Homo sapiens: one gene and its partners. The gene in region 6 interacts genetically with the main gene of each other region. Each region holds a gene or a part of one and is shown on either strand. Other genes may lie near its edges.

Region 1 (3,500 bases), on a different chromosome or scaffold from region 6:
TCTACAGTCCACCTTTTTAATGATAGATTTGTCACACAAATCACACTGACAATTTTTTTATGATGAAGTTATTTCATAACTCTGGCCAGTGGTCCACTTATTTCAAGCACTATTAAAAAAGAAAATTCTAGTACACCTAAGCATTTAAAATGTTCCTTCATGTGCTTATATTTCACATTTTCTTTTTTTAAATTGAATTAAACTATGGATATTAAAACCCTCTTACTGTGCTATTCAGTACGTTTTTAGAACATCCCTTTTGTTTTAGAAACACCATCTATAATCCGTTGTATTTTTCCCTTATTTCACATTAGTTCATACACACACATATGTACACATACATATACACGTGTATGTTTTAAGCTTCAAATATATTATAAGGCACAGCTGAACCATGACTGTTGCTATTGAATATCTATGACAGCCTTATTTCATAATAAAATAATGCTAACTTTCGTTCCTTTAGTAATTTTCCATGTTGCTACAGTAATCATAATTGCTTGACAAAAGTGTCAAATAGATTTAAAACTTCTTAGAGGATCCTATTTGCCTAGTAATATAATAATTAATTGATTTGAGCAATCATTTTTTAAATTTGTCAACTTGAATGCTGGAATATGATTCTCTGGTTCTAGATCACGGCAGTGCTAATGTTCACATTGAACCATCTAAATTGGAAGTATATAGAAAGAGAAAGATGGAAGCTTATCCCTGGTGAAATCAAGAAAAATTCTCTAGTGCCTTAAAAATATCATAGCTAATTGTATAGCCAACTTAAAAACAAAAGTTCTTTTAGAATATGCTTCAAGGAGATTTAGCAGCAGTGTCCTACCTGTTAGTAATGTTGTTGAGGGCTTCCAGCATTTAGTGTGACCGACTGGCCAAATTAAGTATCTCCTCTTTTATAGGTCTGATGAGTCTCTATGGCAGACCTTAGACCTCACAGGTAAAAATCTGCACCCGGATGTGACTGGTCGGTTGCTGTCTCAAGGGGTGATTGCCTTCCGCTGCCCACGATCATTTATGGACCAACCATTGGCTGAACATTTCAGGTAAAGATGAAAAATCCCTGGAAAAGACTATTTCTAAATTTCGAGGTAGAAACAGATCAAAGCTTTTTTTTTTTTTTTCTTTCTTCAGCCTTAAAGCCTATGGTAGGTTATCTGTGCAGTGTGGGATGTTAATTCCATACTTTGCTATGGGGCCTTTGTGCTAAAACCTAGCATAGATTTCAATGACACTGTTCCCATTTCACTCAAGTTTACTGTTAGTCTCTTCCCAGGGTGAAAGAGGCACATTTGTCTTCTCAAGTCCTCAGCTGATAGGGGGACTGTGAGTCCCACAAGGCAGGCACAAGTAAAGCACTCACTGGCAGATGCAAGGGTGCCCAGTTACTTCCCCAATGCCCATTTCTGATAAATAAAAAAAAGTGAGGAGTCTTTTCATGTTTGTAGCTTGGGGTTTATGATTTTTGTCTTGGAGAAATTTGGAACCTGAAAAAAATGCCCTCTTTTTGTTTGTTTTGTAGAATATTTTGAAAAAGAATTTTCTGTTCTGATAATTTTGCAATACTGAGGTTACTGCTATCACATAGTAGAATAACTAGGTACTGAACAGAAAAACAAGCTGAAGACAACAAAGCTAAAGATAAAACATGTCTCCTGACTCCAGTACTTTTTCCCTTCTTTCCGTAGTCAGGACCGCCTCTCCCACTGCTTTTTATCCTGTTCCTCCTGTGGCTGTTCCTTCTCAGTCTCCTTCACATATGTGATTTCCTCTGTTCACTCCAGGGTCGGTTCCTGGCTGCCACCTTTTTCAAATCCAAATGCTGTCCCTGGACAAGCTGTGTCCTCTACACCCACATTTATGCCCAGGACTCTCAGTTCCTCATCTATAGCTTGGCCCTCCCTTTCAAATTCCCAAATTTCTAATTACCTAAAAACGTCTGTACCTGAATTTCTTACAAGGACTTCAATATTAGCATAACTCAAATTTGGCCTCCCTTTTTTTTTATTGTTTTTGTTTTTTGAGACGGAGTCTTGCTGTGTCACCCAGGCTGGAGTGCAGTGGCGTGATCTCGGCTCATTGCAACCTCTGCCTGCCAGGTTCAAGCAATTCTGCCTCAGCCTCTCGAGCACCTGGGGACTACAGGTGTGCGCCACCACGCCCAACTAATTTTTTGTATTTTTAGTAGAGACTGGGTTTCACCATGCTGGCCAGGCTGGTCTTGATATCCTGACATCGTGATCCACTGGACTCAGCCTTTCAAAGTGTTGTGATTACAGGCGTGAGCCACTGCGCCCAGCCTGGTCTCCCTTTAAAACTTTCTCTTCCGCTACCTTCCCTGTTCTATTGCTGCTCACCCACTCACCCCTGCCAGAAACCAGGAGCCGTTATGGTCTTAATCTCCTTGTCACCCACATCCAGCTCATTGTTGTGATGCCCACTCGTTATTTTCTAAGTGGGACTATATTGGCAGCAACATCTGTACTTGGCAAAAATCCTCTTGCATTTTAAAATGAATGAAGATGGGAATACACTAGTAGCAATATGTTTTATGACCCTATAGTTAATGCTTGAAGTATGTATTTAGAGTCTTGTTTGTGATTGGCTGCTCATTTGGGGAGAAGAGGGGTCTGGTTTGAAATTGGATGTACCCGTGAGAGCCACCTATGGAGCTCCTTTTTTCTCTCCGTGTTTAGCCCTTTTCGTGTACAGCACATGGACCTATCGAACTCAGTTATAGAAGTGTCCACCCTCCACGGCATACTGTCTCAGTGTTCCAAGTTGCAGAATCTAAGCCTGGAAGGCCTGCGGCTTTCGGATCCCATTGTCAAGTGAGTGGCAGGCAGAGTGTCACAAAGGCAGTTGATTTTATGTGTATGAATTTTTTTCCCTGTATATAACTGGGGTGCCCTTCTAGCCATATCCAGGTGGATACAGAAAATATCTAGTGCAGTGCTCTAGCTTCTGCAAAACTTTTCAGGACTCATTGAAGCAACAAAAGCTTGAATGCTAACTATATGCCAGGCCCTGTGCTAGGTTCTAGAGATACAAGTACAAGGATGAACAATGCATGTGTATTATTTGGGAAGAAAATGAATGCTCTAAAACTTTTCCCACCTTGTTAGTGAATGCTGGTTAAGCTATAGTTTACCTTCTTGCAAGAGGAAACATTGAGCAAGACATGTCTATTTTCTCTTGCAAGAAGGTAAACTATTTATGAGCAAGACAGATAATTACCATGCAGTGTGTTTATTAAATGTTTCAGTGAATATGTGGCAACACACGAGGAGCCGCCTTGTTAGAGGAAGTGACTCTTGAGTATTGAAGATATCTAGGTAGGAGATCTCTAGGTAATAAGACAAAGCAACCAGTCTAGGTAAAACTTCCTGTGTGGTTCTAAACTCTTACGTAGTTGGAAGTTGCTGGAGCACAGGACTAAGGGAGGAGAGTGACAAGGTGAGGAGAGTCAGGGACCAGATTGTAATGGGCCCCTA
Region 2 (3,500 bases), on a different chromosome or scaffold from region 6:
AGGTGTGAGCCACCACACCTAGCCTTTTTTTTTTTTTTTTTTGATACAGAGTCTTGCCCAGGCTGGAGTGCAATGGTTTCATCTTCCCTGCAGCCTCTACCTCCTGGGTTCACCTCCTGCCTCAGCCGAGTAGCTGGGATTACAGACGCAAACGACCACTCCTGGCTATTTTTTTGTTTTTAGTAGAGACGGGGTTTTGCCATGTTGGCCAGGCTGGTCTCGAACTCCTGACCTCAGGTGATCTATCCGTCTCGGCCTCCCAAAGTGCTGGGATTACAGGCATGAACCACCATGCCTGGCCTTTTTTTTTTTTTTTTTTTGAGACAGAGTCTTGCTCTGTCACCCAGGCTTGAGTGCAGTGGTATGATCTCAGCTCACTGCAACCTCCACCTCCTGGGTTCAAGCAATTCTCCTGCGTCAGCCTCCCATGTAGCTGGGATTACAGGCATGTGCCACCGCAACTGGCTAATTTTTGTATTTTTAGTAGAGATGGAGTTTCACCATGTTGGCCAGGCTGGTCTCAAACTCCTGACCTCAGGTGATCCACCCACCCCGGCATGTCAAAGACTGGGATTACAGGCATGAGCCGCTGTGCCCGGCCAGGAACTATTTTTCCAACAGGTCAAAGTCACTTTGAATCAGAGCTCTGTTTACACACAACCTGGGTGAGTCATGCAAGTCACTGGTAAAGAGGAAGGACAGATGGCCCCCAGACCAAAACCTCAGGGATGTCAGAGAACGCATCTCCAGAGCCAACCCCCAGGCCTGGGGTTTTTCCTCCCTGGTCCATGACAGGCCTTCCTAAAGGACCTGAGGGGGCACTGTGGAGAATCCAGTGGAAGGTCCCTGCATGGAGGCTGAGCAGGCCCTGAGTGCCCCAGGGATGAAGAGCTTGGGGGTGGGAGGTCCAAAGGGCAGGAGAATGACCTTGTTGAACTGCGACCAGGACACAGAACGGTGCTGGAAGGCCTCCATACTGAGGCTGTTGTCATTGAAGATCTTCTGGGCCAGGAAGAGGAAGTGCTCTGGGAGCAGCCCCCGGTTGGTCCCCACCTCAGCCATGAACTTCAGGTTCAGAGTTTCACACATCTTCTCCCAGGGCACCCGCTCAGCCACCACAAAGGGCACGCGGTCCTGGGGAGAAGGGGGAAGAAGAGAGCACTGCAGGCTACCGTCTTGTTATTCCTCGGGCCGGCCTTCATCCCTCCCACCTGCCTGTGGCCTACCCCTCCACAGCCCCTGATATCGCTCACAAACATGCTGTTTTTTCTAGGTTACAGTGCTGTGGCCTGATAGTTGTTAAGACTGGGGTGAAAAGAGGTCAGAAGCACGAAAGCAGGCCCATGAGAAAGTGTTAAGGTCACACCCATTTAAACATGCCCACCACCCCATCAGCAGGCCTGCACCACTGCCCATGTTAGAACCCACCCTGCCCCTGTTCCCTCCAACTCCAGGACTTTCCTCACCATCTCAGAGAAGGCATTGTCCCACAGGATAGTGGCTTTGGCATTGTTGTCTTGGTTGCCATGGACGATGACCACCAGGGGCAGAGACAGGGCCTGAAGAGGGTGAGGACAGGGGTTTCTTTTCTTTCTTTCTTTCCTTTTTTTTTTTTTTTTTTTTTTTTTTTTTTTTTTTTTTTTTTTTTTTTTAGATAGTATCTCACTCTGTTGCCCAGGCTGGAGTGCAGTAGTGCAATCTCAGCTCACTGCAGCCTCAGCCTTCAGGGCTCAAGTGATCCTTCCACCTCAGCCTCCTGAATAGCTGGAACTACAGAAATGTACCACCTAATCCAGCTAATTATTTATTTATTTATTTTTGAGACAGAGTCTCGCTCTGTCACTCAGGCTGGAGTGCAGTGGCGCGATCTTGGCTCACTGCAAGCTCTCCCTCCCAGGTTCACGCCATTCTCCTGCTTCAGCCTCCCGAGTAGCTGGGACTCAGGCGCCCGCCACCATGCCTGGCTAATTTTTTGTATTTTTAGTAGATACGAGGTTTCACCGTGTTAGCCAGGATGGTCTCGATTTCCTGACCTCATGATCCGCCCGCCTTGGCCTCCCAAAGTGCTGGGATTACAGGCGTGAGCCACCATGCCCGGCCAATTTTTTATTTTTTGTAGAGATTGGATCTCCCTATGTAGCCCAGGCTGGTCTTAAACTTGCAGGCTCAAGCGATCCTCCTACCTTGGCCTCCCAAAGTGCTGAGTTGTTTTGTTTTGTTTTTGAGACATAGTCTTGCTCTGTCGCCCAGGCTGAAGGGCAGTGGCGCAATCTTGGCTCACTGCAACCTCCGCCTCCTGGGTTCAAGCGATTCTCCTGCTTAGCCTCCCGAGCAGCTGGGACTACAGGCCTGCACCACCACGCCCAGCTAATTTTTGTATTTTTAGTGGAGACGGGGTTTCACCATATTGGCCAGGCTGGTCTTGAACTCCTGACCTTGTGATCTACCCACCTCGGCCTCCCAAAGTGCTGGGATTACAGGCTTGAGCCACCATGCCCAGCCGGACAGGGGTTTCTTAGTGAAGCAAGAAGTTTCCTCAGGGGACTGGCTCTGAGCACTCAGAGAAGTTATTGGACTCACACATCATAATCAAAAAGCTCATGCCATGTTATTAAATGCGTTCTGAAGCTCAATCAGGGCCTCACCGTAGAGAAGTGGTTATTAGTCATCGCTATGGAACCAGACCTCCAGGTTTCAAATACCAGCTCCAACACTTAGCTGTGTGACTGGGACAAACTACTTAAACTCTCTGTCTCAATGTCCTTATCTATAAAATGAGGCTGATAATACTGCCTACCTCATAATGTTATTGTGAAAACCAGACGTGTGTGTGCTGGCACGCATGTGCGTATGTATCATTTAATAGAGTGCCCTGGTCTATAGGAAGTGCTTCCGAAGTGTTTGCTGCTATCCACTACCATTCCCTGCCCTGTGCACTCCATGCTCTTGCTCACCCCCACTCACCCGGGCCCCAGTGTGCATGAATCCCAGACACATGGGGTATGGGGCAGTCACAAGAGGTGAGGGTCCAGGGCCCTTGTGTGTGGCATTGGAGGAGGACTCGGGGTCCCAGATTGGGGCAGGGCTGGGCCACGGTTCACCTGGAGCTGGATGGGGAGTTTGCCGGGGCCAAGTGTGAAGCTGGCAGAGAAGAGCACAGCGCACTTCTCCTCTGTGACAGACTCAGTGCCCTTCCGCTCACACCGCTTGATCTTCTTGAGAAGCTGTGGGTGGGGTGAGGGAGAGCAAGGGCGAGGTCATGAGGACAGAGACCGCTCCTCCTGGGCTTCCTGACATCCTCTCCAAGGAGAGTCCCACAGTCTCCTAGTGGTGCCCCCCTCACTGCACCCCAAAGCCCCTCACCAGGTTCTTGAACAGGGCAGAGCAGCAGTTCCCAGGAATGCTGTTCTCCAAGGGCACAGTGTTGTTGATGATTTCTCCAGTGCTTTCTCTGCCAGGGGAGGTCAGAGTGTGAACGAGCTCATCTCACTGTCGTCAGG
Region 3 (3,500 bases), on a different chromosome or scaffold from region 6:
GGAGCAGCCTGGGGACAGGCCGAAGTCCCTATTGGACACTGCAGCCACCTGCATTACTGTGCTTGGGCCCTGCAGGCAAACCAGGTCCCTCCCCATCTGGTGCCTGCTCCAGTCTCCAGCCGCACCACCATTCCACCCTTGTCTCCGAATCACCCACCTGCCTGAGGTCCTAGCAGTACACAAGCTGACCCCAGCCCAGAAATGCACTCCCCTGGGCTCCCTCCGCCTCCCACTCAGACTCCAAGTCACAGCCCAGGCCTGAGTCGGCATCCTGCTCCTGTTCCTCCCCTGGCCAGCACTTGGCTGTGTCCCATCTCTTTTTTTTTTTTTTTGAGACAGAGCCTCGCTGTGTCGCCCAGGCTGGAGTGCAGTGGTGTGATCTCAGGTCACTGCAACCTCCACCTCCCGGGTTCAAGTGATTCTCGTGCCTCACCCTCCCGAGTAGCTGGGATTACAGACATGCGCCCCCACACCTGACTAATTTTTCTATATTTTGTAGAGACAGGATTTCACCATGTTGGCCAGGCTGGTCTCAAACTCCTGACTTCAAGTGATCTGCCTGTCTCGGCCTCCCAAAGTGCTGGGATTCCAGGCGCGAGCCACCGTGCCCGGCCGGCTATGTCCCATCTCTGCCCTACTCACATGCACTGGAATGGCTGTGACCCCCTGTGCCCTCCCCGGCATTCCTAGGACTTGACGTGAGTTGCCCTCAACATAGATTTGTCCTTATCAGCGCGTAGTTTTGCTGAGTTGAAGGCTATGGCATTGGGAAGCGGGGCTGGGGTTAGGGACCGGGTCCAAATTCAAATGCCCAGGACTCAGGAGACGAAAGCAACTGAAGTGGGCCCAATGGCAGCCATGATGGGCAGAGGCACACACATCGCTCCGCTCTGTCCACTCAAAAAAGCAGCAAAGGCTGGGCGCGGTGGCACGCGCCTATAATCCCAGCACTTTGGGAGGCCAAGGCGGGCGGATCATGAGGTCAGGAGATCGAGACCATCCTGGCTAACACGGTGAAACCCCATCTCTACTAAAAATACAAAAAATTAGCCGGGCGCGGTGGCTGGCGCCTGTAGTCCCAGCTACTCGGGAGGCTGAGGCAGGAGAATGGCGTGAACCCAGGAGGCGGAGCCTGCAGTGAGCCAAGATCGTGCCACTGCACTCCGGCCTGGGCGAAAGAGCAAGACTCTGTCTCAAAAAAAAAAAGCAGCAAAATGGCTCGGTGCAGTGGCTCATGCCTATAATCTCAGCACTTTGAGAGGCCAAGGCAGGCAGATCACCTGAGGTCGGGAGTTGGAGACCAGCTTGACCAACATGGAGAAACCCCGTCTCTACTAAAAATACAAAGTTAGCTGGGCGTGGTGGCGCATGCCTGTAATCCCAGCTACTCGGGAGGCTGAGGCAGGAGAATCACTTGAACCTGGAAGGCAGAGGTTGCATGCAGTGAGTCAAGATTGCACCATTCCACTCCAGCCTGGGCAACAAGGGTGAAACTCCGTTTCAAAAAAAAAAAAAAAAAGCAGCAAAATGATGACCCTGCAGTTCCAGCACTTGTGTTTCATGAGAAGCTGGAGATCTGGATGGTATGTCAAATCTCCAGATAGCTTTTTCTAATATTTTTTGGAAATGAGGTCTCACTCTGTGATCCGGGCAGGAGTGTTGGTGTGATCATAGCTCACTGCAGCCTTGAAATCCTGGGCTCAAGTGATCCTCCTGCCTCAGCCTCCCAAAGTCCTGGGATTACAGGAGTGAGCCACCGCATCAGCCGAATCTCTAGACTTTTTAAAATTGGCAACTGATTCAAAACTTAAAACACACATTTTGGGCCAAAGGGAACTCTGCTGAGAATTACACTTTGGGCTACCGGCTTGGAGGAGGGCAGGGGGCGTGGGGGGCTGGTGGCTCAGGGGTTCTGCCCAGGGCTGTGTACTCACGCCATGGACTGGTGGAAGTCGGATAGGTCCTTCTGTGTGGCGTGCAGAAAGAGGACGGTGGCAGCCTGGGGACTCAGCGACCCGTCCCAGGAGGTGCTTCCCGCCTGAGGGGAGCAGGTGGAGGAGTGTCAGGACCTGAAGGGCAGCCCCGGCTGCGCCCAGCCCCAGGAGGGCAATACCTCGTGCTGGGTGACCTCGTGGGACACAAGCTGCTGCAGGAGGTGGAGGTGCACGGTGTAGCTCGGCTGCGAGCGGCTGGCCGAAGTGGCTCTCTGCAATGAGGCCTCTGTGAGCAGACAGGGCCTCACACTGGGTGCAGCCAGCCCCGCAACCCAGCAGACCGCCGCAAGAGCTGGGCATGGCCACTGGCCCAGTACCCGACCTACCCGCTTATGGATGAGTTGGAACTGGAGGTGGCACTGGCCTCGGTCTGGGTAGGTCTCAGTGCGGGGTTCCAGGGGGTACCACTGGTCCTCTCGGCAGCGCAGGTCCTGACAGGCGGGGATGCCCAGCCCGTGAGCGTCAGAACCTCATAGAGTCGGGGCAGCGGAGGCGACAGGAGGTGGACCCCAGGCTCAGCTTTGTGAGGACACAGAGCCTCTCCCCAGAACCCCTCCCAACCCCCTCCCTCTGCCTCGCTCCTGGGCCCCTTTCCTCATCCTCCTCACCTGCAGCCTCAGAACCACGTTCCCCAGAAAGTCGTCCTGGCCTTTGTCCTTCCGGGCCTCTTTAAAGATCCTGCGTCAGGCAGGGTCCCATAAGGGGGACGCAGCAAGGGTCGGAAGGGATTAGGCTGGAATCCACCCCCGGCCGCAGCCACCTGGACCCCAAAGGAGCCTGCACCCCAGCATCCAGTGTGCATGTTGGGGGATGGAGGGCAAAAGGAGCCCCAACCCCTTCCCTGTGAGCCCTGCAACACGAACCTGCGAAGCCCATGCAGATCCGTGAGCTCCCCAAGCTTCTGTCGGACAGACTCCACAGTGTCCAGGTCCCTGGCAGGACAGAGGTTTGAGAAGGAAGCAGAGAGAGTGCCTACGACCTCTTCCAGGAGGAGGTTCCGCCTCTCTCACCCCAGATCCCTTCCCTTCCCATCCCTAGGGGCAGGCCAGGTCACTCACCACATGTCCAGATGAAAGCTCGCATTGGTGATGTCCTCAAACTCCCTGTATGGAGAAAAGGGCGTGGTTGAGGGCCCTGGAGGGTGGATGCCCCCAGACGAAGCAGTAAGTGACCACAGCCCAGAGCCATGGAGTTGTAGCCTATCCCTGCCAAACTTCCCTCCTCCCAGCCGCATCCCTTTTTTTTTTTTTTTTTTTTTTTTTGAGATGGAGTCTAGTTCTGTCCCCCAGGCTGGAGGAGTGCAGTGGCAGGATCTAACTCACTGCAACCTCTGCCTCCTGGGTTCAAGCAATTTTCCTGCCTCAGCCTTCCAAGTAGCTGGGATTACAGGTGCCCGCCACCACACCTGGCTAATTTTTGTATTTTTAGTAGAGACGGGGTTTCACTGTGTTGGCCACACTGGTCTTGAGCTTCTGACCTCGTGATCCGCCCGCCTAGGCCTCCCAA
Region 4 (3,010 bases), on a different chromosome or scaffold from region 6:
GAGGTCAGGAGTTTGAGACCAGCCTGGCCAACATGGTGAAACCCTGTCTCTGCTAAAATACAAAAATTAGCCAGGTGTGTTGGCAGGCGCCTATAATCCCAGCTACTCAGGAGGCCGAGGCAGGAGAATCACTTGACCCCCCCTAAAAAAAAATCCTAATCCTAACCCAGAAATAAAATGGCTCTACTCATGAATGGGAAAGTTTGTCATCTTTGAGATTTTATATATATAGACACACACACACACACATGTTGTGTGTATATATATATGCACTGTCAGTCAAATATTCACATTCTAAATGACTGTCAGAAATATTCCATGGAAACTTCATCTCTGAAGATTATACAGATTTAAACTGAACATCATCTACCTACAGCAAATCACACTTCCCATCTTTGAACTAAAAGGAACCAGAACTTACCCCACCTCCTAACAAGCAATATTTGGTCCTATTGCTTCTAAACTATTGCAACCAAAATTCCAGTAACCAAAACATTTGCTGTGTTCTCTAGGCATATCAAGTGTTTTATTTAGACCATTTCTGAGGATTTTGCTTTAAAGGCTTTACATGCAGCATTCAAGTATCTCATAATATAAGACAGTCTAGTCTTTCAGAGATCATGTATCATCAAGGTCTGCAGAGTTTTCACTGTCATTTGCAACAAGAGCCTCTCTGTTCTCGTAAGTCCAGAAGCCATTCAAATCGATTAGAATGGTGGTTACTGTGTCTCCTTGATTACTGTTGATTAAATCCTGAAGAGAGATTTTCAAAGGATCCTTTGGTTTTACCATGTCAAAGATTTCATCCTGCAAGAGAAAAAAAAATACAATGAAATTTGATCCACTTAATTTCTATCACACATAGTGATCCAAAATTCAGGGCTGTTTGCATCCACTGAAGTACAGAGGAATAAAATTGAGGGCTGCCACTTGGGCTTATGTTAATTTTTTGTTCTACTTTTTTTCTTTTCCATTTAACAGGCAGTTTCCTTTTCTCTACCTACAACCACAAAATTTTATTGGATAACTCCTTAGCTATGTGATAGCTATCCTTCGTTTTATAGATGAAGAAACCAAGGCTCAGTGCCTAATCTAGCTACATAGGTAATTAGTGGCAGAACTATCTAATGCAGTGTTCAGGGACTGCACGTTAACTAGTTTCTTATATATTTTTCTGTTGCCTTCTAATTGGTGAAACAAAGTTTTGTCTGTAGTTTTTGTTTTTGTTGTTTTGTTTTGTTTTTGAGATGGAGTCTCACTCTGTCATCCAGGCTGGAGTGCAGTAGTGCGATCTTGGCTTACTGCAACCTCCGCCTCCTGGGTTCAAGCGATTCTTCTGCCTCAGCCTCCCGAGTAGGTGGGACTACAGGTGCACGCCACCACACCCAGCTAATTTTTGTATTTTTAGTAGAGATGGGGGTTTCACCATATTGGCCAGGCTGGTCTCAAACTCCTGATGTTAAGTAATCTGCCTGCTTTGGCCTCCCAAATTGCTGGAATTATAGGTGTGAGCCACTGCGCCCAGCCTTTTTTTTTTTTTTTTGAGACAGAGTTTCACCCTTGTTGCCCAGGCTGGAGTGCAATGGTGTGATCTCGGCTCACCGCAACCTCTGCCTCCTGGGTTCAAGCGATTCTCCTGCCTCAGCCTTCCAAGTAGCTGGGATTACAGGCGTGTGCCACCACATCTGGCCAATTTTTGTATTTTCAGTAGAGACGGGGTTTCTCCATATTGGTCAGGCTGGTCTTGAACTCCCGACCTCAGGTGATCCGCCTGCCTTGGCCTCCCAAAGTGCTGGGATTACAGGCGTGAGCCACCGTGCCCAGCCCCTTCTTTTTTTGTGTGTGTGAGATGGAGTGTCCCTCTGTCCCAGGCTGGAGTGCAGTAGTGCGATCTTGGCTCGCTGCAAACTTTGCCTCCCAGGTTCAAGCCATTCTCCTGTCTTGACCTCCCAAATAGCTGGGATTACAGCCGTGTACCACCACACCCGGCTAACAAGGGTTTGGTTTAATTTTTTTTTGCTAACCGTTCAACTCAATTAAACATCTAAATGTTTCAGAGATAGTGACAAAGCTTCATTTCCAATGTTGATGTCAACATTTTGTTAGGATGGGAGAGGGGAGTTTTCTCTGGATATGCATTAGACATCCAAAAAGAAGCTAAATTCTGCTAAAACTTACTGGAACATATAGAAGACCTCCTTCTATATTATGAAGTGTACAACAGATATTTACAGGGAATTAGTACATGTTTTCTAATCTTTTTGTAGTAAAATAACTACAAAATTTGTAGTAAAATAAAATTTGTAGCAAAATTACTAAAAGTGAACAGGCTGTTTGAGGTAGCATACTAAAACAGTTTCCAAGGTAAAAAATCAGTTTACAGTTGAACAGACTGCCGTAGGATATAGACTGTACTGACTGTCTTAATTTTCTTTTTTTTCTTTTGAGATGGAGTTTCACTCTTGTTGTCCAGGCTGGAGTGCAGTGGCACAATCTCAGCTCACTGCAACCTCCACCTCCTGGGCTCCAACGATTCTCCTGCCTCAGCCTCCCGAGTAGCCGGGATTACATGCATGCGCCACCATGCCCAGCTAATTTTTGTATTTTTAGTAGAGACGGGGTTTCACCATGTTGACCAGGCTGGTCTTGAACTCCTGACCTCGGATGATCCGCCCGCCTCAGCCTCCCAACGTGCTGGGATTACAAGCATGAGCCACTGAGCCCGGCCCCCTGACTGTCTTAATTAAAATGAATGAATGCTTCCAATGAAAACATAATGATGACAATACTAAAATTATAAACTACATAAATAGTCCAAATGTGGTCTCAGTTCGTAATGATTTAAATATCAGTTCAGAACAAAAAGCAAACACTTGATTCAAATAGTACTTCATTAGTTGCTTTCATATAAAATTTCATGTAATACAAATGACTATCTCATAATTATCTGGTAATACGTAAATTAAAGGAAAAGATAACCTTGACATCTTGAAATGAAACAGGATCTTGT
Region 5 (3,500 bases), on a different chromosome or scaffold from region 6:
TAGATGAGATTAACACATTTAAGTCAGTAGACTTTGAGTAAAGCAGATTACCTTCCATAAAGTGTGGGCCTCATCCAATCAATCAATCAATCAGTTTAGGCTTTAATAGAAAAAGACTTATCTTCCCCTAGTAGAAGGAATTCTGCCAGCAGAGAGCCTTTGGATTTGAACTGCAACACTAACTCTTTCCTGGGTCTCCAGCCTGCTGGCCCGCCCTGATTTTGAATGTGCCAAGCCTCCACAATTGCATGGAACAATTCCTTAAAGTAAACCTCTACATATCCATCCTGTTGGCTCTTGGCTGTTTCTTTCGAGAACTGTGACTAGATTTTGGTTTTTCTTTTCCCTTTGTTTTTTATTGGGATGAAGGATTGTTTTCAATTCCTTAGAAACAAAATTTCAGGCTCCTTTTCTAAAATGAGAGGCATTTCAATTGAGTAAGTTTAGAAAAAAACCTAGCTATCAAGAAATAGTGATGTACTACTTTAAAACTTACTGAAATTCACTGTTGCTTCAGCTCATAGGTTCAAAATTGCTTAATTGCTCTCTCTTGTCTGAAGAGAACAGTATGCTGGGTATAAAACAAAAAAACTGATCAATTTGGAAGAAGGTGAGATTCAGAATTCTAACTCCCATTTTAAATTATTCCCTTGCAATCTAACATACTCTGTATTTTACTGAAAGTGTACTCACTTAAAATATATTTTTTTCTAACTGCAAAAGTAACAAACATATCCTCTGAAAGTACACTTTTTCTTCCTTCTATCTACCCACTGAAATGTAATGAATGCCTACCTGGTGCCCAACTCTACTGGCGGTAAATGAGAGAACAATGGAGTTTTTCATGAGTTCATGGAAATTAGTAGTAAAAAGGATACTAAATTAAACAAAACTAATCCTGTCGGTCCTCATTCTCCTCTACCTTTCTTCAAGGTTTGGCTCTATTGACTAGCACTCCTCTGTCCTTTATTCTGAAAGCCCACACTACTTGGTCCTGTCGTCACTCCCTTTTTGGTTCCTCTTCCTCCTGTCAATCCTCAAATGCTCATTTCACTTTAAAGAATTAACACTGGGTGTGTGCCTCTTAGGAGCCAGGTACTTTGCATCCATGATCATGTTTAAGAGTCACAGCTGGCCCTGGTTCAAATCCAGAGGTTGCTTGACTCCAAAGGCTGTGTTCTTCCCACTACACCTCCTGAAGAATAGGACCTACGGCAATAGGTGAGCTCACAGAATCTCTCATCTACAGACAACCTGTGGAGGAAAAATACATTCAGGTGGATATAGACATAGATACTCTTATATCTTTCCCTAGTATCTTCCTTTGAGATTTTATCACTTCTTAAGACTTTAATTTGCATCTCCATGTAGCTGATGCTACATGTTCTTTATTACAAGTCTTTATCTTTCTCCTAAATCCTAGCCTCAAATTTCCCACTGCAAGCTATGCAGTAGGATGCCACTGTCATGACAATTTAACAAACATAAACCCTTCTGACTTATTTATTTTCAATAAATCTTCATCTCCACTCCAGTCTTAAAGCCTGAGCCATCGTCACCTCTTCTTCCTCCTTTACTCCTGAGCCTTGGAGATTCCACCTTGGTAATTTAACTATGAAATAAAGCTCCTGCCTTCCAGTTCCACAATGCTGTCAAATTCTGGTCCTTTCTCACCTCATTTCTCAAGATTGCCAAGCACTTTAATTCACAGTCAGTCTCCCTGCCATTCCTCTTACAAATAATTTTACAAACTGCTTTCAGACTAATATTCATTGATCTCCAGCCTGAAACCCCCATTCACAACAAAGCCTTAGTTGTTCCTGTACAGTCGTCAAGCCTGCCTTTTTGCTCATGTTATTTCTTACCCAAATTACTCCTCTTCCTCCTCCTCTTCCAGTCTACTGAAACTCAATCCATCCTTCAAGTGCTGACTTAAAGCCTACCTCCTGCTCAGTAAAGCCTTCTCTGACTACCGCCAACCAAATCACTTTCTCCTTTCATTCTGAATGCAATTCCTATATGATTCAGCAATTGATCTCATGCTGGTCTGTGAAAGTGCTTCTGTGATATTCAAATTTTATGTAAAAACTTTTACCTATAGTGTTTTTATGCTAGGACTGCTTCTAAAATAGATTAATGAGTATATCTTACACTTTATCTTGGTGATCAGGAAATAACTATTCATTTGATTTGGTTAACTGCTCTTCAGAGACCTGAGGGTAGAGAAAAATATTCCAGGAGCAGCAGTCCAAAGTGATCAATATATATTAACCCCTTTAAAATAATGATCCTTTAAACCAAAGGATTAAAGAATCAAATTACAGACAAAATAACAGACAACTTTCTCAGTTCAGAAATAAAGTAAGAACTTAAAGGAAATGGTTGATAGACTATAATCTTTTGAAATGTAAAGTTCTGGCCAAACAATCCTTGTGGTAATAATTTTTAATGGTAAACGACGAGTATACAGTAATCAATATATAAACCAAAATAATACACCTGGCCTTACACACGCATAGAATTATCCTAGTTTTACCTGGCCCCCATAATGGTATTTTAAAGCAAAGAATCTATATTTACTATAGTCTACAGTTGGAGAAAATGGTCAAAATATTACAGGAAATAAGGGTTACAAAATAAAACCCTCTAGTGGGGTTATCTTATCAGTTTCATGGTTGTTGGGTGACAGAATTCATAAGTAGAGAATAGTCTGTTTAATAGTTACAAAAACGAAAAATCATGAAAATTAAGGCTTTAGTAAAATGACTCTATTATGTTTGAAAAAAAGGAAGTTCCATTAATTCTGCATATCATATAAATCTTAAATATTTCAGTGCAGTGATCAATTTCCACTAAGGATAAAAAAAGAAAAACCGAATTTATAATAAGGGTTTCTTTCATTGAGAGGTAAGAACTTAGAGATATTTTTTATCATTGGCATTGGTTTCTGAGGCTTTAAGCAACTTGCAGAAAAATTTAACTCAGTTTTTAGAAAGTTATTTTACTCAGTTAAAAAAATATGATATTAATCTCTCCATGACAGATTTATTTTCACCATACTAGTGGTGGGGAAGCTGGTTTAGAAACAAATGTCTTGGCTGGGTGTGGTGGCTTGTGCCTACAATCTCAGCACTTTGGGAGGCCAAGATGGGAGGACTGCTTGAGGCCTGGAGTTTGAAACCAGCCTGGGCAACACAGTGAGACCCTGTCTCTACAAAAAAATTTAAAAAAATTAGCCAGGTGTTGTGGCACATGCTTGTGGTCCCAGCTACTCAGGAGGCCGAGATGGGAGGATCACTTGATCTCAGAAGGTCAAGGCTGCAGTGAGCCGTGATCATGCCACTGCACTCCTGCCTGGGCAACAGAACAATACCGTCTCAAAAAAAAGAAAAAGAAGCAAATTATCTGGCTTCTTTGAGCCTGTCTCCTTCATTCGTTCAGCCTGTATTTATGTTAAGTGCTGACTACATGCCAGGATAGATATTGTCCTAAGATATATT
Region 6 (3,500 bases):
TTAACTTACTGCTATATGTGGCCATTACAACCTCAAGAGCGCACGCCAATAAAGACATATGAAAAATGTTGTCATTCAGAAGTTTGCTAAAGGAAAAAAAAAAAGATTATAAAATACTTACTTCTATAAAAAGAAAAAAATTTTTTACTAAAAGTAAAAAATTTACCTAAAATTTTGAATGGATAATCGTTCTTCTTCCTGAAACAGATAATTTAAAAAAAAAAAAAGAAGTTGTTTAATTGAAACCTTATTTGTGTCAGCATTGAATTTTTTTTTTTTTTTTTTTTTTTTTTAGATGGTGTCTTGCTCTGTTGCCAGGCTGGGGTGAAATGGCACAATCTTGGCTCACTGCAACCTCCACCTCCCTGGTTCAAGGGATTCTCCTGCCTCAGCCTGCCAAGTAGCTGGGACTACAGGTCTACACCACCACGCCCAGCTAATTTTTGTACTTTTAGTAGAGACAGGGTTTCACCATTTTGGCCAGGATGATCTTGATGCCTTGACCTCCTGATCTGCCCACCTCGGCCTCCCAAAGTGCTGGGATTGCAGGCGTGAGCCACCGCGCCCGGCTGAAATTTTTTTATATTGTTTTTAACTTACTGATTTAAGCATGGATTCCATTACTCGGTAATACAAGCGAACTCCAAGTTTGTATCGCTACAAACAAACAAAAAGAAAAATAAGAGCCTGCTATTTTAGAAAATCACAATTATGAAATTTTTTTTTTTTTTGAGATGGAGTCTCACTGTTTTGCCCAGGCTGGCCTTCACACTCCTGGGCTCAAGAGATCCTCCTGCTTTGGCCTCCCAAGAGGCTGGGATTATAGGCATGTACCACTATACCCAGCTGACAATTACTAAAATTTTTTAAAAAGCCTTTTCTTAAAACATACTTCTCACCCTTCTTACAAATATGGCCGCCAAGACAACACAAAAGCTAGCTTGTCTAAAACTCACAACTTAAGTATTAAGTGGTGATTAACATTCCCAAGTAAATTAACAAGAGGGTAGGTCCAGTACCTGGATTTCCTTAACTCCATTTCAGTTTATATCATTCATACTAAAGATAGGTTATGTGCCCAGTACTATTTTAAGCACTTTATGTACCTTATATAACATTTCTCATGACCTAGGACATGTATTTTCAAGATAGCTGTCCAGGATTAAGAGGACAGTCTTTGTCCATAAATTTAGTAAAACTGACACAGGCAAAAATCAGATCAAACTGACCTTATGAGCAAGAAGTTTTAGCCAAATAACTAGTTCCCATTATTTGAAAGAATAACCAAATTTTAGAAATATAAACACACACCATATTATTTCCTTCCAAACTAAGAGCAAAAATCTCATATATAATCATGCACCGCATAACAACGTTTTTGGTCAATAACTGACTGCATATCTAACAGTAGTCCCATAAGATTATAATGGAGCTGAAAAATTCCTATTGTTTAGTGTAATGTAGTGCAATGCATTACATTACTCACATCTTTGTGATGATGCTGATGTAAATAAACCTATTGCACTGCCAGTCATATAAAAGTATAGTACATACAATTATGTACAGTACATAATACTTAATAATGAACATGTTACTGGTTTATGTATTTATTATACTATACTTTTTATTAGTTTAGAGCATCCTCCTTCTACTTGTAAAAAAAAAAAAAAGTTAAATGTAAAACACCCTCAGGCAGCTCCTTCAGGAGATATTCCAGAAGATAGCATCATCATCATAGGAGTTGACAGCTCTATGCATTTTATTGTCCCTGAAGACTTGGGACAGAATTTGGAGGCAGAAGACAGTGGTATTGTTAATCCTGATCCTGTGTAGGCCTAGGCTAATGTGTGTGTTTGCCTTTGTTTTTGGCAAAAATCTTTATGAAATTGAAAAAATTTTTAAATAGAAAAAAGTGTACAGAATAAGGATTATAAAGAAAGAAAATATTTTTGTACAGCTGTATAAGGTGTTTGTGTTTTAAGCTAAGTGTTATAAGAGTCAAAAGTTTCTTACAAACTGAAGATTTATAAAGTAAAAAAGTTACAGTGAGCTATGGTTAATTTACTACTGAAGAAAGAAAAAATGTTTATGAAATTAGTTTAGCCTAAGTGTAGTATTTATAAAGTCTACGATAGTGTACAGTCATGTCATAGGTAATATTGTAGGCCTTCACATTCACTTGCCACTCGACTCACTGACTCATTCAGAGCAACTTTCAATCCTGTAAGCTCCTTTCATAGTAAGTGCTCTGTGCAAATGTTCCATTTTTTATCTTTTGTACTATATCTTTACCTTTTCTATGTTTGGATATATTTAGATACACAAATGGTAACACATTATGTTACCATTACCTACAGTATTCAGTACACATGCTGTAGAGGCCTGTAGCCTAGGAATGAATAGGCTATATCATACAGCTTAGATGTACAATCGGCTATACCATCTAGGTTTGTACAGACACACTCTACCAGGTTCACACAACAAAATTGCCTAATGATGCATTTGTCAGAACATATCCCTGTTAAGTGGTGCATGGCTGTAGAATCAAAAAGAACCATTAAATATCAATGTTTAAAACACTGATGGCATCAAAATATAACCTCACTACACTGAAATAAATGTGTACAGTGGACTCCAGTTTTCCAATATATTTTTGTATATTATCCTCATTAATGCCACACAACAAAGCAGAGCAAATATAGAACCTGAATCTCAGAGAAGTTAAATGACATGTCCAAGATCAACAATGGTAGAACCAAATATAAACCCAGGGCTGTCACTCCATGGCCCATACTCTTACCTATTATATTAGCTTTAGATTTCCTGAAATAATATCACTCAATAATATCACTGACAAATGGCATGTATAGTCCCATTCACATTAGGATATGCATACATGAACAGTCATACATGTAGAAGTCAAAGCAAAATCAAAAATTTAATATCAAAGATTTCAATTTTTTTCTTAGTTGTATTTTCCAAAATTTCTACAATGGCTATGTGTTCCTTTATTACATAGTTTTTATAATGGGGTGGGAGGTAGTTTTCCATAAAGTTACCCATAAATAGCAGCATACACAGGCAGCAGGGATATAGTATCTGACAGTATTTTATACTACTAGACAAATACTGTTAGAGTATTTATACGAACTGGAAAGATGCTGCTTTTAATATTATTACTCTATAGTACCACGAATTACAATGAATTCAAGTTACCTGTGATCCAATTTCGACACAACCCTGTCCCACAGCTTTAGCAAATTTCTCTTTAAAGATGTATCCTATATCCTTCACTCTTTTCAGTATACTTTCTTTTGGATTCACTGTGCAGTTCTTTAGGAGGTAAAAACAGAAATCAATGTCGAGGATACTGTGTAATCAGAATTAATATTTTCTGCTCCATAATATATGACTTTTTAAATTGTTCATAAAAATGTGGAAACACTTCCATAATAACTAGGTAACCACAACTACTGAACATAAGCAGACAATATCATTTC
Region 7 (3,500 bases), on a different chromosome or scaffold from region 6:
GAGGGAGGCGGCCATGGAGAGCTGGCTGCCAGGCGAGAGGCACTTACCCAGGTGCAGGAAGTCGGCGCTGCAGGATGGGGGCGGAGCACTGTGGGCAGACGGGAAGGATGGTGGGACGGTCACAGAGTCCGAATTGAGAAATTCGCCGAAGAGATCAGGATTGGAGCAGGGCTGGGAGTTGTTGCCTGAAGACGGCAGAAGCGGGCCAAAGGGGTCAGCTGTGGGGACAGGCGGGCATGGGGAGGACTCAGCCCGGCTGCCTGAAGACAAAGGAGCCCAGCTCTGGAGTCAGGCCTGCCCAAGAGGCCACTCCAGCTGGGCAGCCCAGACCCCACGGCTGCCCTCGCAGGGGCACTGAGGCAGTCAGCCCAGGGGCTCCCCGTGCCCCACGCCTCAGGATGACTTTCCCAGGGACACAGCAACACTGCTGAGATGGAGAAGCCAGTAGCTCCCGGCCCGTGAGCTCAGGTGGGCAGCACAGAACCCTGACATGACCCCGAGGCTGCTCCTGGGGGAGGTGGGGGAAGGGCACGTTCCCTTCCTGCAAGCACCTTCGAAACACGCCCATGCAGTGAGAATGACTCAGCCTCATCACTCATCTACTGTGAAGCCACTCGCCTTCAGAACAGAAACACGTACCAGCGGCAGGGGGCCCTCCTCTTGGGGTGCTCTGCACGCTCAGGGGAGGGGCCGGGCTTGCCAGGAGCAGCGGGTCCTCGCTGAGCAGATCCTCCGGGGGCCCCTGGGAGGCGGCCTCAGGGGGCCCAAGGAGGCAGCTGAGCAGGTCGGTGTTGCTGGAGGGGGCCTTGCAGGCCTGCGGGGGTACAGCTGGCCCTGCGCCCACCTCGGAGTGCAGGCCCAGGAGGTCGACCCCGTCTTCCTGTGGCACAGGCTCTGGCAGCACAGCCGGTGTCTCCACCTCAAAAACCAAGTCCTGCTGCACCAGCCCTGCTGCCAGGCCGGGGGGCTCTGGGTCGGCCCTGGGTTCCTGGCCCTCGCTGGAGATCGGGGATCCCCCTTCATCTGACACCTCACTCTCGTCTCTGTCCTCCATCAGGGCAGACTCGCTCTCCTTGGAAGAGGCATTTTCTGCACCAGTCTCTGCCTCCTTCTCTTCTGCGAAAAGGAAACAAAACCACAGGCTAGTGAGACCACACGGCCAGCACCAGGGTCCCCACGGCGCGTCCCTTCAGGGCCTCCTCGGCCCAGGGCCTTGGTGAACACACGTGGCCAGCACCAGGGTCCCCACGGCGCGTCCCTTCAGGGCCTCCTCGGCCCAGGGCCTTGGTGAACACACGTGGCCAGCACCAGGGTCCCCATGGCATGGCCCCTCGGCACCTCCTCGGCCCAGGGCCTTGGCAAGTGCTGCAGGAACACCAGGGTCCCCACGGCGCGTCCCCTCAGCCCAGGGCCTTGGCGAACCCACATGGCCAGCACCAATGTCCCCATGGCACGGCCCCTCAGCGCCTCCTTGGCCCAGGGCCCTGGCGAGTGCTGCAGAAGCTTCTGGGCGGGCGGTGGGGTGTTGTTCCTGAGGCGTCTCCAGCACACCCACCTCCAGCCTCTGCCTCAAGGGTCTGCCTGTGGCTCTCTCCGCCTGGGCCTCTGCGGTGCCTCAGGCTGAGTCAAGTGGGGGCCACATGGCAGCACTAGGGGGTAGGAACACCAATCAAGGGTGCTCTGGGAACAGGCGGCAGAAGGGACGAGCCCGATGGGAAGGCCAGGGGTGCTGGGACAGGAAGTGGCAGGTGCATCCCTTGGGGTGTGTCTGGGGTGAGGTCCAGTGATGGCGCCCAGGTGTTTTCCTGAAAAGCCTCAGAGGGGCTGGGAGCCCACTGGGGGTGTGGGCAAAGAGAGGTGTGGGATCCCCAGGTGGTGACAGTCTGTCCCTCCGCCCAGGCCCTTCCCCTGTACCCAGGGGCCCCGCCAGCATGGCCCATGCTGCCAGCCTCCCCAGGCCCACAGACTGGGATGAAGAGCGAGGGTTGTTATTTCAGACTTTGTGGGCATGTTCTTTTTTTTTCACCTTTAAAAAGATATGAAATCATTCTTAGCTCGTGAGCCATTAAAGAACAGGCTGACATGCCGGGTGCACAGCCCCACTGAGGTGCAACTCAGCTCTGCCGGAGGCCCGTCTCCCAAGACGCTTGCCCTGCCCCAGGGGCACCTCCAGACCAGGGGCCTGCCCTCTGCAAGTGGCCAGGTCCAGGGACGCTGCCTACCCTGCCAGTCCAGCGTGTGCAGGAAGCGACTGGCGTCCGCGCTGCTGCTTGGCGGTGAGTCAGAGTCTGTGGGTTCGGCTTCCGGGGACCCTGCCCCAGCATCATACTGAGCCGTGGAGCCAGGCTGCCGGGGAAGCTCCGGCTTCCCTGCAGGAGAGGGAGGGCGTCAGGGCACTGGCACTGGCCAGCAGCCTCGGGGCAACACTGACCCCAGAGCTGGGAAGTGCAGCCAGGCGGGCGCCAGCACCGTGGCAGGCCAGGCCATCGGTAAAGCAGACCAATGACATGACGGGGAGGGGCTCTCTGAACAGATTCCTGCTATCCACTCGGATGCCACTCTGGGCCATGCGTGCACACTTGGGCACAGCACACGCACACATGAACACGCACAAGGAACCCACCACTGAGGCATCAAACGCCACACATATGCAGGGTACACATGAATGCACACACACAGCTGCACGGTACACACGAATGCATAGAGCACACACACAGGCGCACAGTACACACAAATGCACACACACAGATGCAGGGTACACACGAATGCACACACAGCACACACAGATGCACAGTATACACGAATGCACAGACAGCACACACATAGATGCAGGGTACACATGAATACACACAGCACACACAGATGCACAGTACACATGAATGCACACACAGATGCATGGTACACACGGATGCACAGACAGCACACACACAGATGCAGGGTACACATGAATGCACACACAGCACACACACAGATGCACAGTACACATGAATGCACACACAGCACACAGATGCACAGTACACACGAATGCACACACAGCACATACACACATGCAGGGTACACACGAATGCAAAGCACACACAGATGCACGGTACACATGAATGCACACACAGCACAAATGCACAGTACACAGGAATGCACACACAGCACACACAGATGCATGGTACACAGGAATGCACACACACAGATGCACAGTACACACGAATGCACACACAGCACATACACACATGCAGGGTACACATGAATGCACACACACAGATGCACAGTACACACGAATGCACACACAGCACATACACACATGCAGGGTACACATGAATGCACACACACAGATGCACAGTACACACGAATGCACACACAGCACATACACACATGCAGGGTACACATGAATGCACACACAGCACACACAGATGCACAGTACACATGAATGCACACAGTACACACAGATGCACAGTACACACGAATGCACACACAGCAGAGATGCATGGTACACACAAATGCACACA

Evidence for each region.
Region 1: changes in RB1 (region 6) and SKP2 together harm fitness more than expected from each alone (negative genetic interaction), as found in Homo sapiens cells (one study listed by BioGRID).
Region 2: changes in RB1 (region 6) and STAT6 together harm fitness more than expected from each alone (negative genetic interaction), as found in Homo sapiens cells (one large-scale study listed by BioGRID).
Region 3: changes in RB1 (region 6) and UNC13D together harm fitness more than expected from each alone (negative genetic interaction), as found in Homo sapiens cells (one large-scale study listed by BioGRID).
Region 4: changes in RB1 (region 6) and PPP2R3C together harm fitness more than expected from each alone (negative genetic interaction), as found in Homo sapiens cells (one large-scale study listed by BioGRID).
Region 5: changes in RB1 (region 6) and TAF5L together harm fitness more than expected from each alone (negative genetic interaction), as found in Homo sapiens cells (one large-scale study listed by BioGRID).
Region 7: changes in RB1 (region 6) and GAK together harm fitness more than expected from each alone (negative genetic interaction), as found in Homo sapiens cells (one large-scale study listed by BioGRID).

The regions. Positions count from the first base shown.
Region 1 is NC_000005.10:36,165,611-36,169,110, forward strand, and holds part of SKP2 (S-phase kinase-associated protein 2), read left to right. Parts: intron 1-908; coding exon 909-1,052; intron 1,053-2,702; coding exon 2,703-2,837; intron 2,838-3,500. UniProt on the Homo sapiens protein: Substrate recognition component of a SCF (SKP1-CUL1-F-box protein) E3 ubiquitin-protein ligase complex which mediates the ubiquitination and subsequent proteasomal degradation of target proteins involved in cell cycle progression, signal transduction and transcription.
Region 2 is NC_000012.12:57,101,363-57,104,862, forward strand, and holds part of STAT6 (signal transducer and activator of transcription 6), read right to left. Parts: intron 3,452-3,500; coding exon 3,364-3,451; intron 3,230-3,363; exon of another isoform or gene 3,225-3,229; coding exon 3,102-3,224; exon of another isoform or gene 2,998-3,101; coding exon of another isoform or gene 2,965-2,997; intron 1,560-2,964; coding exon 1,467-1,559; intron 1,135-1,466; coding exon 928-1,134; intron 1-927. UniProt on the Homo sapiens protein: Carries out a dual function: signal transduction and activation of transcription. Involved in IL4/interleukin-4- and IL3/interleukin-3-mediated signaling.
Region 3 is NC_000017.11:75,837,905-75,841,404, forward strand, and holds part of UNC13D (protein unc-13 homolog D), read right to left. Parts: intron 3,098-3,500; coding exon 3,053-3,097; intron 2,927-3,052; coding exon 2,858-2,926; intron 2,673-2,857; coding exon 2,603-2,672; intron 2,426-2,602; coding exon 2,321-2,425; intron 2,207-2,320; coding exon 2,114-2,206; intron 2,039-2,113; coding exon 1,935-2,038; intron 1-1,934. UniProt on the Homo sapiens protein: Plays a role in cytotoxic granule exocytosis in lymphocytes. Required for both granule maturation and granule docking and priming at the immunologic synapse.
Region 4 is NC_000014.9:35,084,972-35,087,981, forward strand, and holds the end of PPP2R3C (serine/threonine-protein phosphatase 2A regulatory subunit B'' subunit gamma), read right to left. Parts: coding exon 2,980-3,010; intron 808-2,979; coding exon 619-807; 3' UTR 501-618; downstream 1-500. UniProt on the Homo sapiens protein: May regulate MCM3AP phosphorylation through phosphatase recruitment. May act as a negative regulator of ABCB1 expression and function through the dephosphorylation of ABCB1 by TFPI2/PPP2R3C complex.
Region 5 is NC_000001.11:229,605,623-229,609,122, forward strand, and holds part of TAF5L (TAF5-like RNA polymerase II p300/CBP-associated factor-associated factor 65 kDa subunit 5L), read right to left. Parts: intron 2,214-3,500; exon of another isoform or gene 2,186-2,213; coding exon of another isoform or gene 2,152-2,185; intron 1,255-2,151; exon of another isoform or gene 796-1,254; intron 572-795; exon of another isoform or gene 497-571; intron 1-496. UniProt on the Homo sapiens protein: Functions as a component of the PCAF complex. The PCAF complex is capable of efficiently acetylating histones in a nucleosomal context. The PCAF complex could be considered as the human version of the yeast SAGA complex.
Region 6 is NC_000013.11:48,376,751-48,380,250, reverse strand, and holds part of RB1 (retinoblastoma-associated protein), read right to left. Parts: intron 3,334-3,500; coding exon 3,217-3,333; intron 658-3,216; coding exon 601-657; intron 417-600; exon of another isoform or gene 377-416; intron 199-376; coding exon 167-198; intron 87-166; coding exon 10-86; intron 1-9. UniProt on the Homo sapiens protein: Tumor suppressor that is a key regulator of the G1/S transition of the cell cycle. The hypophosphorylated form binds transcription regulators of the E2F family, preventing transcription of E2F-responsive genes.
Region 7 is NC_000004.12:866,317-869,816, forward strand, and holds part of GAK (cyclin-G-associated kinase), read right to left. Parts: intron 2,370-3,500; coding exon 2,223-2,369; intron 1,117-2,222; coding exon 640-1,116; intron 219-639; coding exon 48-218; intron 1-47. UniProt on the Homo sapiens protein: Associates with cyclin G and CDK5. Seems to act as an auxilin homolog that is involved in the uncoating of clathrin-coated vesicles by Hsc70 in non-neuronal cells. Expression oscillates slightly during the cell cycle, peaking at G1.